2 linked regions of the Homo sapiens genome follow. Each later gene encodes a partner of the first gene's protein in a complex. Each region holds a gene or a part of one and is shown on either strand. Other genes may lie near its edges. A codon is read from its position in the direction of its gene.

The links.
Region 2: the proteins of LILRB2 (region 1) and MR1 are in contact, whole or in part, in a crystal structure (PDB 9C9D), measured with the Homo sapiens proteins. Residues at the interface, in NP_001074447.2 of Homo sapiens: Tyr61 (codon at 6,440), Arg62 (codon at 6,443), Glu63 (codon at 6,446), Lys64 (codon at 6,449), Gly97 (codon at 6,548), Gln99 (codon at 6,554), Leu109 (codon at 6,584); in NP_001372090.1 of Homo sapiens: Thr213, Phe214, Pro215, Glu267.

Annotation. Positions count from the first base shown.
Region 1 is NC_000019.10:54,278,069-54,286,404, reverse strand, and holds the start of LILRB2 (leukocyte immunoglobulin-like receptor subfamily B member 2 isoform 2 precursor), read left to right. Parts: upstream 1-5,294; 5' UTR 5,295-5,444; intron 5,445-5,521; exon of another isoform or gene 5,522-5,601; intron 5,602-5,776; exon of another isoform or gene 5,777-5,860; 5' UTR 5,861-5,908; coding exon 5,909-5,942; intron 5,943-6,105; coding exon 6,106-6,141; intron 6,142-6,329; coding exon 6,330-6,614; intron 6,615-6,757; coding exon 6,758-7,060; intron 7,061-7,296; coding exon 7,297-7,593; intron 7,594-7,842; coding exon 7,843-8,145; intron 8,146-8,336. UniProt on the Homo sapiens protein: Receptor for class I MHC antigens. Recognizes a broad spectrum of HLA-A, HLA-B, HLA-C, HLA-G and HLA-F alleles. Involved in the down-regulation of the immune response and the development of tolerance.
Region 2 is NC_000001.11:181,029,334-181,037,070, forward strand, and holds the start of MR1 (major histocompatibility complex class I-related protein 1 isoform 1 precursor), read left to right. Parts: upstream 1-4,649; 5' UTR 4,650-4,674; coding exon 4,675-4,741; intron 4,742-7,663; exon of another isoform or gene 7,664-7,737. UniProt on the Homo sapiens protein: Antigen-presenting molecule specialized in displaying microbial pyrimidine-based metabolites to alpha-beta T cell receptors (TCR) on innate-type mucosal-associated invariant T (MAIT) cells.

The sequences.
Region 1 (8,336 bases):
CTGTCTGTTGTCTGACGCGGTAGCTGCTTCATGTAGGTGGGATGTGGGGCTTCTGCCTCTCTGGATGGGAGAGTGGACGTCAGTTGTGGTGGTGTTGCTGGCTGGGTGGGCCCGACCTCAGGCCCTGGGGTGAGTGGTCAGGTGCCAGCAGGTAGGAAAGGGCAGGTAGTTCCCGGATCACAGGCCCCTAGGTGGCCGGCTGGACAGCGTGTGTGAGTCCTGAAGGGGCTGGACTGGGTTTCGGCTGCTCCGGGGTTCAGATGCTGGCTGTGATGGGGAGGGATGGGCTGGTCCCCAGGTCACCGGCAGAACCTTCAGGCGGGGCAGGCAGAAGGCTCAGGTGGTAGAGCCTGCGGCAGATCACAGGCCTGTGGGGACTGGGCTCTCAGAAGGGCTGGGGGCTGCAGCTGAAATGTCCAGGTGGGGGCAGGGTGGCTGTGCTGTGGGCCTGTCACTAGGGAGGGCAGCGCCCCTCGGCTGGGGCACTGGAGACTGGCAGCTGTGAGGCACAGGGCCCGCTCACACTTCCCTCCTGAAGAAGTGTCACTCGGTTTTGCTCTGGGGACACGTGAAAGTGCCAGGCCTCCCCACACCCTCCCTGGGCCTGGGGCAGCAGGGGCAGAGGCAGAGGTGGCAGTGACTGCAAAGGGCTTGTCAGGGGCCTCTGAGCATTGGGCTTTCAGAGGGCACCGAGCCAGGGCCACGGTGTTCGGGTGGGGGCAGGACGGGTGACTGGGGCCCTGCAGCTGGCAAGCCCCATTAGCAGGAAGGAAGCCCCATTTCGCAGGAAGCAACAGAGGTGGGCAGCTGTGTGGTGCTCAGCTTGGCTGCTCCTGTGCCCCAGCTGTCATACTTATTCTGGGGCCCACAGAGGTGCCTGGCCTCCTCCCTCCCTGCTAAGGCAGTGGCAGCTGGACCCAGGCTGCTCAGGGATCAGAAGCCTGTGGGATTCCACGTGGGCTCCAGTGGGGCCTTGGTACAGTCTCCAGGAGCAAACTGTGGGCCTCTGGAGGCCCAGAGGGGACAGGCGCTCTCCTGTGGGCAGGATCCTAAGGGCCCACAGCAGAGGTGTAGATGCCAGGGACCCCTCACTCACTCACCCCTTCCCTGTGTTAGGGAGGCTCTCACTCATTCACCCCTTCCCCGTGTTAGGGATCCTCTCACTCACTCACACCTTCCCCGTGTTAGGGATCCTCTCACTCACTCACCCCTTCCCCGTGTTGGGGAATCTCTCACTCACTCACCCCTTCCCCGTGTTGGTGAATCTCTCACTCACTCACCCCTTCCCCGTGTTAGGAGCCTCTCCTGGCTCCCACCTTTTCTCTTCTCTTCTCTCCATGTCCTCATGTTTCTCAGGTGAACCCCAGCATCCTCTTGGAAGATCCACTTGACCTGTTGGTATTTACTCGCTATTTTGGGTCCTCTTAGTGAGTAGGCAGACTCCAGCCCTTTCCATTCAGCCAACTTGAACCTCAGCCCCCAGTCATTTTCTTGCACTTTTTACTCTTGGGAAATCCAGTCCCAATGTGCTTGTCTTTCATTGGACAATAATTTTCATTTTCTCCAGTAGTTTTAAAATTACTTTGTATCTATTCTAGGTATCTTTTACTCTATCATAGTTAAGACATTGATGTTATTTATGAATTTGTTCACGTTAAACTCATGTTCTTTCTTCATTTCTATAAAAATGTCAACCATTTTCTTTGCAAGTATTTACTGAATAACATACTCCTTATTTCCTTCATTCTGAAAGTGTGATCCAAAGAGAGATATCTGTTTCCTCTTTTCATTCCATTTCTTGTGTGCATTAATTATCTTTTCTATTTTTTTCATTTCTAGTTTTTCTCTGATGACTAATGAAAAATTTTAGTAAATATTCTACACCAATACAATGTTTATCATTTCAGCTGTGTCTTGTTCTGGATGAAATTATTTCTAAATGTGTTAATATAATTTACTATTTTCACATCACAATAGCTTCCTAATTCATTTCTACAATTGCCTGTTTTTTCTCTAACGGACTCTTTGATTTTTATTCCTCTGGGGTGGGTTTTTCTCCCACACACCTGATCTTCCATATAGGGTTTCTCCCCAGGCTGACTCAGGAAGGAAAGCTGATGAGGGCATTGCTGTAGCCGCTCCTGCCCTGCGGTGTCCATGCTCCCAAGCTTAGAATCACCTCTGTGTTATGCCCGGCATGGCGGGGTCCATGTGAGCCTCACACTCCAGGGTCAGAGATGCCCGGTCCAACAATGATAAAGCGCATCTGTGTCATGCACACCCGGGAAGGTGGCTCAGTGCTGAGTGTAGCCCGGGTCACTGAGTCATCCCAGGGTCTGTCCACAAACACAGAAGAGGGGGAGTCACAGTCTCTAAGGTCCCACAGTTTCCTCCACTTTTTTCCTTGTTCTGAGAGTGAGACAAAGGGCCATGACTGTTCTGTGGGTTGGACAGATGCATGTTTCCACCTGCAGGCTGGAACCCAAGCTGAGGTCTTGAGCATCCCCAAGTACTGATAAAGCACTTTAGGTTGTTTCTAGAAAACACTGAAAAATTAACCCTTTTGCTAAAAGTGTAGAAACAAGCCCTCCCCTGAACCAAATTCCTGAAACTCTCAGGTTAAACTTCGTAACCCCATCCCTTCACTGCAGACTCCCAATAGAAAAGTTACAGGTGCAAGGATGAGATGACTTTGGTCAAACTCAGACCCCACAGGGCCAGGAAGGCCTGAAGGAGAGGAGGCCCATGCTTCCACGTCTCAGATAAGAACTGTTTCTAAGGACTTTTAAAAAACCCATAAGAAACTCTTCCATGTCCTTCAGCCCCTTCTGCTTTGACAAGGTTTATCACTAGATGTTCTTTAGGACGTCAGGAATTCAGATAAGATGCTCTCAAGAGAACCATTGACCAGCAACAGCATCTCCTCCAATGGACTGACAGCAACTCTGGCTTTGAACCTGTGGAACCAGGGAACTCTGTTTCCAGGCAGCTCTGTCAGGCTCTCCCTTGTTGCTGATAAGAACTTCCTTTACCTCTCTATGTACAGAGAGCTCTCTCTACGGTGCTTTTCCTCTACTCTCACGTCACAGGAATCATCAACACAGAAAAAGACTTCTAGGACCAGATGTATGGGGTTTTTTTCCCCAGACGCAGTAGCGAACAGCAGCTGGGTGTCCTCTAAGTCAGCTCTGGTGCTGTCTACCCAGAGACAGTCCCGGATCCCACAGATTGAAGGCCCATTCCCCAAAACTGCCCCCAACACCATTCCCAAGTCCAGACCTCCAGAACTTCTGACTGACTGGCTTCAAGTTGGGGATCCCATGCCCCACTCTTTGGGTTTGATTAATTTGCTGTAGCAGCTCACAGAACTCAGGAAACACTGACATTTCCTGGTTGAATACAAAGCACACTGCAGAGGACACAGATGAAGAAACTCATAGGAGGAGGCATGGGGGAAGAGGCCCGGGGCTTCCATACCCTCCCTGGGCGTCGCCCTCCAGGAGCCTTAGCATGCTCAGCCACCCAGAAACTCATGAAACCCAGTCCTCTGGGGCTTTTATGAAAGCTTCATGACATCAGCATTTCCTCCCACAAGGAACAGGGTGAGACTGTCTTCTGGGAGGGTCTTAAGATCCACTATCAGAAAGGCAGGGAACATTCGAGTCTTACTTTGGGTTAGGTGAAGGAAGGGCAGGAGGAGGTCAGAGGCCTCCCCTGAGGCCCAGCACAGCCAATGTTATAACAAAAGACTATAACAAGGGCTATGGGAGTTACAAGCCAGGAACTGCGGGTGAAAACCAGCATATATCACAACATCACACTTCCCTCTCTGGACACACTGTGGCTTGCCATGCCATGCACTCCATATTGTAATCCTTGCTTCTCACTCCCAAATAAACTCAAAATCCAGGCAACCCTGGAGCAATGCAGCCTTGAATTCCAGGGGTCTCTTATATGCACACTTTTTCCAAACAAACGGGGATCAAAACTATAGCATTTGTGAGAAACAAGACTTGCGTATATGAACGGCAGACTTTTCCTATATGCAGACCCAGCAGAGACAACGTCAGGGCTGGAGTACGAGCAAGTGTTGGTACATGTAGGGGGTACTGAAACGAATTGCCTGTGTATCCCAAGAAACAACTGTACTGAGAGATCATATTTTCTAGGGGTTTATTTTTGGTTTTGTTTTTATTTTAGGTTAAAGCTTTGGATAGAATACCCAGTGTCTCCTTGTCCATCTGAAGAACATGCTGCTATGTGGAAGCACATCCTTGAGATCCACAAGGAGACACTGGGCAAGAAGACAAGGATGCCCCACTGTGCAGAGGTCCCCCTAATAAATGCTCTATGAACACCCTGGTGTTTAGTGCTTCTTTCCTTGGAATTCCAGCAGGTCTGGACAGTTTGGTGCACTCCCTTGAGGGAATTCCCCTGGGCTGCTTGGGGTCCACTCCAGCCTCAGGTGTAGCTAGAGGACGCAGCCTCCCACCTTGGTCTGGAGCCCTGAGCCCCTCACTGTCATTGCAGATCCCGGGGTTCCTCTCCCGGCTCCACTCAGTGGTGGAAACCTCCACCCTAATGAGCCCTTGATGGTCCCGGGACCCTGTGGCATCTCACCTCTGGCCTCTGTTCTTTCTTGTGAGTCCGTCTACACTTGGGGTTTCCACATGTCTTTTTCTGCTCATGACCTTGATACTCTGGGTATTTCAGAAATGCTACACATACGTTTCTCCATTACGGTCAGATGTGACATCTTGAGTGGACTCATCAATCACCTACAGAATGTGGAGTCCAACAGCAAGATCCTCTCACGTCCCAAAGCCTCAGGTCTTACCCTGGTCTGGAAATCAAGCACAAATGAGCCCCTCCCAATGTCCCAGGCACCACTGACCCCACAACCACTGTGACGAGTGGGATTCATGACAACAATCTGCAAAGGAAGAAACTGAGGCTCAGTGATGGGACATTACAAACCAAGGTCACGTAGGCAGCGGATGATAACCAGTCATCAAATAAATATCAACTCCCTCCCCCACTCCCCAAATCAAAGCTCAAACATAAGTCATTGTTCCCAAAATGTTGACCAGGAATTGAGGTGCAGAGGGACGGCTAAGGACGCAATGGGCACCGAGGAGGCAGGAAAGACTCAGAGGTTTCTTCCCGGGGGGGAGGGAGTGGACGCTGGAGCAAAAACATTTAAAAAGGGGAAGTTAAGAGGGGACTATTTGGTTGAAAGAAAACCCACAATCCAGTGTCAAGAAAGAAGTCAACTTTTCTTCCCCTACTTCCCTGCATTTCTCCTCTGTGCTCACTGCCACACACAGCTCAACCTGGACAGCACAGCCAGAGGCGAGATGCTTCTCTGCTGATCTGAGTCTGCCTGCAGCATGGACCTGGGTCTTCCCTGAAGCATCTCCAGGGCTGGAGGGACGACTGCCATGGTAAGGACCCCACAACGCTGTGCTGATGGATGGGCTGAAGGAGGGAGGGTGACCATGTGGGAAGCTGTGAGAAGGAAGGGGAAGCCACTGCTACCCTCATCAGGAAGGGCAGACACAAGAAGCACCAGTTCTATTTGCTGCTACATCCCGGCTCTCGGTGAGACGAGGAGAAACCAGACAGACAGTGGCTGGGGGTCAGGAAAGACCCCATTACAGTCTGAAATGTCTGCAGAGGGCCCAGTGCCTGCCCCCACCTCAGCTCTAAAAGAATGAGAGTCAGGCTCCTGGGAGGGCAGTTCCGCTTCTTGTGTGGCTGCAGATGACAACACCCCATGAGAAGGACCCAGCCTCTGAGTGTCCACACAGGGTGGGAAGGAGGGGAGGCTATTTCTCTCTGTGTGTCTCTGTCCCGCCAGCACCGAGGGCTCATCCATCCGCAGAGCAGGGCAGTGGGAGGAGACGCCATGACCCCCATCGTCACAGTCCTGATCTGTCTCGGTGAGATTTGAAGAGAGAGGGGAGCTTCTAACCTAGGAGGGACCTCACCCCACAGCCAAACTCTGGTCCCTAAGGAGACCCCAGGGGCTCACAAAGATCCCAGGGAGGGGAGGACCTGCTCAGGCTTCAGGGGGCAAATCCCTCACAGGGAACTCTCTTCCAGGGCTGAGTCTGGGCCCCAGGACCCGCGTGCAGACAGGTGAGTCTGTCCCCAGCTCTCCCAGGTCCCTCCTCCTCACTGGGGACAAGGGGCCACCTCCGTGCAGCTGGGGATGGGGATTAGAAGTTCTGGACTGACTGATGGGGGCATCTGGAGGGTCCTGGGCTGAGAGCTGAGATCTGTTGGGTGGGAAATGACTTCGAATCTGACCTTTGATTTCCTTCCAGGGACCATCCCCAAGCCCACCCTGTGGGCTGAGCCAGACTCTGTGATCACCCAGGGGAGTCCCGTCACCCTCAGTTGTCAGGGGAGCCTTGAAGCCCAGGAGTACCGTCTATATAGGGAGAAAAAATCAGCATCTTGGATTACACGGATACGACCAGAGCTTGTGAAGAACGGCCAGTTCCACATCCCATCCATCACCTGGGAACACACAGGGCGATATGGCTGTCAGTATTACAGCCGCGCTCGGTGGTCTGAGCTCAGTGACCCCCTGGTGCTGGTGATGACAGGTGAGAGGACACTCAGGGATCCCAGCCCCAGGCTCTGCCCTCAGGAAGGAGGCTCTCAGGGGTGTCTCCCTCTCACAGCCCAGCCCTGGGGATGATGTGGGAGGTGGGAGCCCCATTTAACACGATGCCTCCTTCTCTCCTAGGAGCCTACCCAAAACCCACCCTCTCAGCCCAGCCCAGCCCTGTGGTGACCTCAGGAGGAAGGGTGACCCTCCAGTGTGAGTCACAGGTGGCATTTGGCGGCTTCATTCTGTGTAAGGAAGGAGAAGATGAACACCCACAATGCCTGAACTCCCAGCCCCATGCCCGTGGGTCGTCCCGCGCCATCTTCTCCGTGGGCCCCGTGAGCCCGAATCGCAGGTGGTCGCACAGGTGCTATGGTTATGACTTGAACTCTCCCTATGTGTGGTCTTCACCCAGTGATCTCCTGGAGCTCCTGGTCCCAGGTGAGAAATTCACAGCATTGTCTGGAGTTCCCTGAGTCTCCCTGAGTCTCCAGGCAGGTGGGGAGCAGCCGTGTCTCAGGGCAGTTCCAGGTGGGATGATGTTGGGGCGAGAGGGCTCAGGGGTCCTGGGGCCAGAGACACAGGAAGATCAGCAGTGGTGAGGCACCGGGGGAGAGGGAGGGTTTGTGGGGAAGCCTGAGGGTCGGCTCCTGGAAACCATGAGCACCTTTTCCCAGGTGTTTCTAAGAAGCCATCACTCTCAGTGCAGCCGGGTCCTGTCATGGCCCCTGGGGAAAGCCTGACCCTCCAGTGTGTCTCTGATGTCGGCTATGACAGATTTGTTCTGTACAAGGAGGGGGAACGTGACCTTCGCCAGCTCCCTGGCCGGCAGCCCCAGGCTGGGCTCTCCCAGGCCAACTTCACCCTGGGCCCTGTGAGCCGCTCCTACGGGGGCCAGTACAGATGCTACGGTGCACACAACCTCTCCTCTGAGTGCTCGGCCCCCAGCGACCCCCTGGACATCCTGATCACAGGTGAGGAGCCCAGCGGGTTCAGTCAGGGACCCAGACTCTGCACAGGCCCTGCCGGGGGAATCCAATTAGTGATGGCCAGGATGAGGCGGGGGGTGGTCCCAAGGGAGGGAGAGACAGAGAGAGAGACAGGGGATGGGTGGGGAGGGGAAGACTCAGAGAAAACAGAGACAGAGGCTCCTAGAGAGGCCTGGGGAGGTCTCAGCTCAGAGCAAGGTGGGGCAGCCCCTCACCCATCCTTCTTCTCTCCAGGACAGATCCGTGGCACACCCTTCATCTCAGTGCAGCCAGGCCCCACAGTGGCCTCAGGAGAGAACGTGACCCTGCTGTGTCAGTCATGGCGGCAGTTCCACACTTTCCTTCTGACCAAGGCGGGAGCAGCTGATGCCCCACTCCGTCTAAGATCAATACACGAATATCCTAAGTACCAGGCTGAATTCCCCATGAGTCCTGTGACCTCAGCCCACGCGGGGACCTACAGGTGCTACGGCTCACTCAACTCCGACCCCTACCTGCTGTCTCACCCCAGTGAGCCCCTGGAGCTCGTGGTCTCAGGTGGGGGCCTTGACCCTGTCCTCTCTGAGCTCAAAGGCTCAGCTCAGGCCCTGCCCCCCAGGAGAGCTCTGGGCTGGGATGGAGTGAGCGGGGGTCTGAGCGGGGCTCAGCCAGTGGGAGACTCACCCTCAGAGGGAAGGAGGACAACAGGCCCTCCCAGGCCTGCGCACACTCAGCGGCATCGCCAGCAT
Region 2 (7,737 bases), on another chromosome or scaffold:
ACCCAACCAAATCTCATCTTGAATTCTCATGTGTTGTGGTGGGAGGGACCTGGTGGGAGGTAATTGAATAATGGAGGTAGGTCTTTCCCGTGCTGTTCTCATGATAGCGAATAAGTCTCATGAAATCTGGCAGTATTATAAGGTGGAGTTTCCCTACACAAGCTCCTGTCTGCCTGCTGCCATCCACATAAGATGTGGCTTACTCTTCCTTGCCTTCAGCCATGATTGTGAGGCCTCCCCAGCTATGTGGAACTGTAAGTCCAATAAACCTCTTTCTTTTGTAAATTGCCCAGTCTTGGGTATGTATTTGTCAGCAGTGTGAAAACAAATACAGTGACACACATGCATTATCTTCAGAAGCTCCAGAATCCCCATATGGGGCAGGTTTTAGAATGTAATTTGGTTGGACAGCAGGGCTAGGGGACTTGATGTGGCATGGGAGACCCCTGTCTTTTCTTTTTTTTTTTTTGAGATGGAGTCTCACTCTGTCGCCCATGCTAGAGTGCAGTGGTGCGATCTCTGCTCACTGCAAGCTCTGCCTCCCAGGTTCACACCATTCTCCTGCCTCAGCCTCCCGAGTAGCTGGGACTACAGGCGACCACCACCACGCCCGGCTAATTTTTTGTATTTTTAGTAGAGACGGGGTTTCACCATGTTATCCAGGCTGGTCTCGATCTCCTGACCTCATGATCTGCCCACCTTGGCCTCCCAAAGTGCTGGGATTACAGGCGTGAGCCACTGCGCCTGGCCTCTTTTCTTAAATTATAGGTTTATTTGGGATTACTTAAGACAGCTGATGGCCATTATGCGTGTGTAGTAAAAGTACTCTAATGCCCCAACAAGTGACAAGTCACTTCTTGGTTCCACCACTGCTGATTTCATTGAATCCTCACAATAATCCTGTAAGGCAGAATTGGTTATTACCTCCATTTTCTATGAGAAATCCCAGACTTAGAGAAGTTAATAATTTGGTCAAAGGTCACATAGGTAGGAAATGTCAGAGCCTCATTTGAAAATAAGTTTGACTCCTGAACCCATGTTCTTTGCTACAGTATTCTACTCCCATTTGTACAAGGACTAGCCTTGGCCAAAAATTGGCAAATGGATTTTACCTACCCACAGAAAAGGGCTCAAATCAAACTCGACACAGACACAGACACAGACACACACACACACACACACACACACACACACACTTCTACTGAATTAAAAAAGAAATAGCCAAGGGGAAACTACTGATTAAATATAATAAAATATATTATGTTGAAAACAACATTATTTAACAAACAAGACCCTTTTGCTAACTTGATAATTCATCATTTGGTTTTTAAGGATGAATTGCACTAACTGCAAATGAGTCAGATTCCTCAGAGGGGCCTTAAAATACATATAATAAATCAGGTATTAAAAAGCCAAACACATAAAGGGATTTATAATGAACAGGATAAGCACAACCCACTCTGAAAAGTGCGGCCTGAGATTTAAGTTTAGACTATTGCTCAGAGGTGAGGCTTGTTTTTCCACAAAGAGAATGCGAGGGATTCTCCCTACCTCAGTGCCTCCCAGCTTAGTGGGGCAGTCTTACCTGTCCTTGAAGATCTTGGCATAATTGAATCTATTAAAAATTTTAAGGACTATTAAAGCTATGCTATTAAAAACTGCATATTAATATTGGAAAATATAAATTTGAAAAGAATTTACAAAATACTATTAGGACGTAAAACCCTTTTTTGGTAAAATGAACAAATAAAGGTATGCTTATATGCAGACATATGTAGTCAGCAAAACCACTGAAAAGAAATACACTAAAATATGTTAACAGCAAATTTTTTCCTTTCTTCCTCCCTCCTTCTCTCTCTCCTTCCTTCCTTCCTTCCCTTCTTTCTTTCTGTTGCCATGGTTGTAGTACAGTGGCGTCTCAGCTCACTGCAGCCTTGACCTCCCTGGCTCAAGCAATCCTCCCACCTCAGCCACCTAAGTAGCTGAGACTACAGGCGCATGCACCACACCTGGCTAATTTTTTGTATTTTTAGTACAGATAGGGGTTTCACCATGTTGCCCAGGCTGGTCTTGAACTCCTGGGCTCAAGCAATTTGCCCACGTCAGCCTCCCAAAGTTGGGATTACAGGTGTGAGCCACCATGCCCGGCCAACAGCAATTTTTTCTGATGGGTGATTTTTATCTTATCACTCTCTGGGTTTTTTATATGTATTTGCCCTGTACTCTGGATTAAATTTACTAATTTGCAATTAGAATACAATGACTTAAAAAATGAAAGACATCGGTCAGGTGTGGTGGCTCACGCCTGTAATCCCAGCACTTTGGGAGGCCAAGGTGGGTGGATCCTGAGGTCAGGAGTTCAAGACCAGCCTGGCCAACATGGGAAAACCCCATCTCTACTAAAAAGACAAAAATTAGCTGGGTGTGTAATCCCAGCTACTCAGGAGGCTGAGTCAGGAGAATTGCTTGAACCTGGGAGGCGGAGGTTGCAGTGAGCCGAGATGGCACCACTGCACTTCAGCCTAGGCGACAGAGTGAGACTCTGTCTCAAAAAAAAGAAAGACATCGTTGACATACCTACATTTTTTTTTTTTTTTGAGATGGAGCCTTGCTCTGTCACCCAGGCTGGAGTGCAGTGGCACAATCTCAGCTCACTGCAACCTCTACCTCCTGGGTTCACACCATTCTCCTGCCTCAGCCTCCCGAGTAGCTGGGACTACAGGCACTCACCACCACGCCTGGCTAATTTTTTGTATTTTTAGTAGAGACAGGGTTTCACCATGTTCCAGGATGGTCTCGATCTCCTGACCTCGTGATCTGCCCGCCTCGGCCTCCCAAAGTGCTGGGATTACAGGCGTGAGCCACCGCGCCCGGCCTCATACCTACTTTTTAATGTCAGTACAGCAGGTTATGGTATGGAATGCATTTTGGAACAAGATATTAACAAAAATTCAAAGGAAAAAATACATGGCCATGGAATTCCAGTGCTGAGAGACATTTGGGAATATTGGGGGAGTTTTCCAAAAGAGAAATCCAGGTGACTGTATTTGTTAAATGAGTAACAAAAGGAAAAACAATGTAAAGAAACAGAAAGGAAAGGAAGAGAGAAATACAAAGATCTGAGAAGAGAAGGTGCCAGGGGCCGCTGAGAGATTGCCAAATGTTAATTTCATTATTTGGCTTCTTATTTTATTCTGGGTAAAGGTAGACCTATTAGTTTCCTGTTGCTGCTATAACAAATTACCACCAACTTAGTGGCCTCGAACAATGCAAATTTATTCTTTCAAAGTTCTGGAGGACAGAAGTCCAAAAATGTGTCCTATCAGCTGAAATCAAAGTGTTGTGTTCCTTCTGGAGGCTCTAAGGAGAATCTGTTCCTTCTCTTTTCTAGTTCTAGAGGCCATCTGCGTTCCTTGGCTCATGTCCTTCTTTCAGCAATGGCATCATCACTCTGACCTTTGCTTCCATTGTCACATCTCCTTGACTCTGACCCTTTTGCCTCCCTCTAATAAGGCCCCTCTGATTACACTGGGTCCACCAGATAATCCAGGATAGCTCTCTGTCTCAAGATCCTTAATTTAATCATATCTGCCAAGGGTTTTGTTTTGTTTTATTTTGTTTTTGCCATTTAAGGTAATATATCCACAGGTTCTGGCAATTAGGTTGTGGACATCTTTGGGGCGACAATTCTCAACCTACCATACAACCGGTACATAAGGTTCTACTACCTACTAAATGCATCATAAACAGAACTTCTGATCCTTCAACAACTCTGTGAAATATATGACAGGATTTGCTTTTAAAGTTGAAGAAATCAGGCCTTGGTGCAATTTGGGATTCTGCCCATGGTCAAATAGTGGGGAGGCAAACCCAGGTCCCTGAACCCAGCTCAAGCCTGCCTGCCTCATGGCCATGCCTCCATTCACCTCTCCCCTTCATGTCTACTTCCTCTTTCCTGTCTGGGCCTGTTCCCTAGCTCCCTGGACAAGCTTAAGCTGCTGTTTTCCAGCTTGTCATGTGCTCCTTATGACAGTGTAGCCACAGCTTGATCTTGGGGATTGCTGATTGAGCAAGCTGAGTGGCTGCCCCTCAGAATCTTCTGTAGGCCTTTCTCTTGCCTTCTTTTATTCAGTAAGTGTTTTGAGCTTATTGTGCTGGGTGCTAGAGTAGCAGGGAGGACAGACCTAAGTTGAAGATTACGGGACAATCTAAGTGACACCTGCTATCTCAGACAGAGACTTCAGCATCATAGGGAGCCAGAGCAGGGAGTTCCAAGCCGTGGGAACTGTGACTCTTTCTTACTGACCCTTAAGCAAAATTCTAAGCTCCAGGGAAGCAGAGGCAGCAGCTTGAGCTCCCTGATTGACCAGATATGATTAATCTTTGTTTCTCTGTGCTTTGAACATGACTATGCTCCATAAATATTTAAAAATTGGGAATAGGGTGAAGATAGATACACCAAAAGGAGCAAGCAGTGTCTGAAACCAGCAAAGACTTAAAAGTTACCGAAGAAGGTGTTCATGCTTTCATTTTATCTTTTTTTTTTAACCTAGCAACTGATGACACTGCATATCTTCCCCTGTTCTTATTGGGAGAAGGCCTTGTGTGTCACCAAGAGGTTCTCAGAAGGGACCTGTCAGTTTTTGGTTAAAAGAACCCGGAAAGAGAAGGACTATGGGGGAACTGATGGCGTTCCTGTTACCTCTCATCATTGTGTTAATGGTGAAGCACAGCGATTCCCGTGAGTATCCCACGTCCTCTTCTCTCCTAACTCCAAAGTCGAGGCAGCCTAGAAGGCACAGCTTTTCTTCCTAAAACTTGTGGTGAAAAATATAGAAGCCAGGGGCAGAAACGTGTATGTATTACACTCAGACTCCAGGAGCAATGGATTGCCTGAACAGTTTCCCAGTTCATATTTGTAGGATTTTGATGTCACCACCTTCTGAGGGAGGGGGAGCCGTTCTAGAAAGACTCTGGAACTTCCTCACTTTCCCTCTGAGCATGGCCTCCTTTCTTTTCTGCTCATATTTTTTCTTTTACTTTTGTTTCTCCTCTTTTCTAACTTCCAGAGTCTCATGAGGATGTAGTCAGAGTTTCAGGGGCATTAACAGTGGAGTAGATCCATTGTTCAGGTTTATTTATGTTTTTCCTCAACACAAGCCCTACCTGTAATAAAAGATCCAAGAAAGATAAAACCATGGCTCTGGGTTTGTTTACTGACTGTGAGAAGTATTAATCAAGTAGAAGGGAGAGTTTTTCATTATTCGGGGAGCTCAAGTCACTGGGGAAGCAAATGCCTTCTGTTGCCTCAAATAGGGGAAAGGGCCCATGGGCTAGAACCACCAGGCTTCTCTGCCCTAATCACTTGCTCCCTGGGCTGAGGACTGGTACTGGTGGGCAGTGTCCAGAACTTAGACTTGGCCACCACCATAGGTGTGACTGATGAACATGAGAGGAAGGAGTTCTTTCAAATCACCCATGCACATAGAGAGTGGAATGACTGACCATGGAGATTTGGAAGGGCGAGGGGGGTGGATGATTAGAAATTACTTAATGGGTACAATGTGTGTTACTTGGGTGATGGATACCTTAAAGCCCCAACTTGACCACTACACAATCTATGCTATAACAAAATTGCATGTGTACATCATAAATTTATACAAATAAAAAAATTTTAAATCATATGGCTGGGAGTGGTGGCTCACACCTGTAATCCTAGCACGTTGAGAGGCCGAGGCAGACGGATCGCTTGAGGTCAGGAGTTTGAAACCAGCTTGGCCATCATAGTGAAACCCCATCTCACTAAAAATACAAAAAATTAGCTCGGCACACCCATCTCTACTAAAAATACAAAAAATTAGCTGTGCACAGTGCGCACCTGTGATCCCAGCTACTCGGGAGACTGAGGCAGGAGAATCACTTGAACCCAGGAGGCGGAGGTTGCAGTGAGCCGAGATCATGCCACTGCACTCTAGCCTGGGTGACAGAGTGAGACTCCATCTCAAAAAAAAAAAATCCATATATTAATTGTTCAAATATTGATTGATGGCCTACTATGTGCCAGGCACTTTGGGGGATATGGCAGCGAACAAGACAAACATAGTCTCTGCTTCCATGAAAATTTAATCCAGAAAGTGTCATCATTTATGGGAAAGATTGGGGGTGAGGGTAAGAGGCAGAAGATGAAAGAGGAAAGGAGGAGAGAGGCAAAGGGTGATATTTTTGGAAATAATAAAGCTTATATATTACCTGCATGTGATTCTCAAAGAACTCTCCAATAATATGGAATAATATTCCTTAAACATATTATCTCCTATGACAATCTCACTGACTATTTGTAGTAGGTGAAGAAAATATCCCCATTTAAAGATGAGGCCTAGATTTTTCTCTAGGCCTAGAGAGTGACCACGCTCACATAAGGAGCAACCTGAAGGAGACTGCAGATCTTCTGGCCCTCGGTCCAGGGCTGTTCCACAATGTCATTGCTCCTTTGGGTGTGAAGACTTGTCACTTTGATAATTGGGGGGACAGGAAATAAAACAAGTAAGTTATAAAGGCAAGGGAAGGTCACTTGGTGCTGGCTGTTCTCCTTCTGACTCCTTAGAGTGCATCCTTCTCTGTTCTGTTCTGTGTCCTTGAGGCTGACTGCTAGACTGCATCACCTAGACTCTCTTGCAAGCTGATTTCTGCTTGGGTTCATACAATGGGAGACACTGAAAGGAGAGATGTCAGAGAGCAGGGAGGAAAGAGAGGCTGGGATACATCTTTCTTGCTCCTTCCCCACTTTCTGTGATGTCTTTGGCAGTAGCTATGTTCTTCTGTAATGCTGTCTTCCCTGAATAACCCCTTCTTCATGGTTCTAGCTCCCATTGGGCTTCAGTAACGGTATTTGCTATTCTTATCTCTTAAGCCCTAGGGGTGATAATGGCTTCCCATAGTTGTTAGCCTGCAGATGCCCATCATCCTTGTTTGTTCCGTTAACCTTGACCATATCTCTGCAAGGAGTCCCTTCATTAAGGTCTCCTCACATGACCCATCTGGCTTGAAGGCTGTTTCCTGCTAGGACCCTAACTGAACATTCCTGGGCTTTGAGGGATATTGGCTGGAAAAGGATATGAGATTATGAAAGAAGACTCAGTCTACTTGATATTTATGCCTAGTGCTAGCCCTGAGTGGGAGCTATATACCAGTAATAGATGGGGAAACACGGGGAAGAGATACTGCAGGGTTGTGGGTCATTACTCCAGGAAATGTCAACATAACTCCAATATCACTTTCAGTGTGTTGCTTTCATCAACTCCACAGCCTGCAGTTGACTCCTCCTTCCTTTGTGCTCCCATGGCTCCTGTTCACAGTTCTGTAATTTTCCATTTACAAAAATCTTCTCTTTGAGGCTCTCCTTAAAGACAGAAAGAGATATCTTCATTTTTTTCTTATTTCTCTGGTATACCTAGTGCCCAACAGGCACTTAGTAAATGTTTGCTGAGTGAATTTATGTTCGGAGGTAATGTCCCTAAGAAATCACAGTTATTTGACTGGGAGCCATAGAGAGCTCGGGCAGTAATAACGACTGCAAATTCAAAACTGTGGCTTACTGTAGTTGCAGGATTTGTATTAAAAAGGTGTTTCATGCTTTTACAACTCATCTTGTTCTTCATTTCAGCCTGTGTGAAACTGTGAATTGGCGATATGGGTGGGTGTAATCAGACTGGGGGCTGGCATGAGATTTCTCATGCA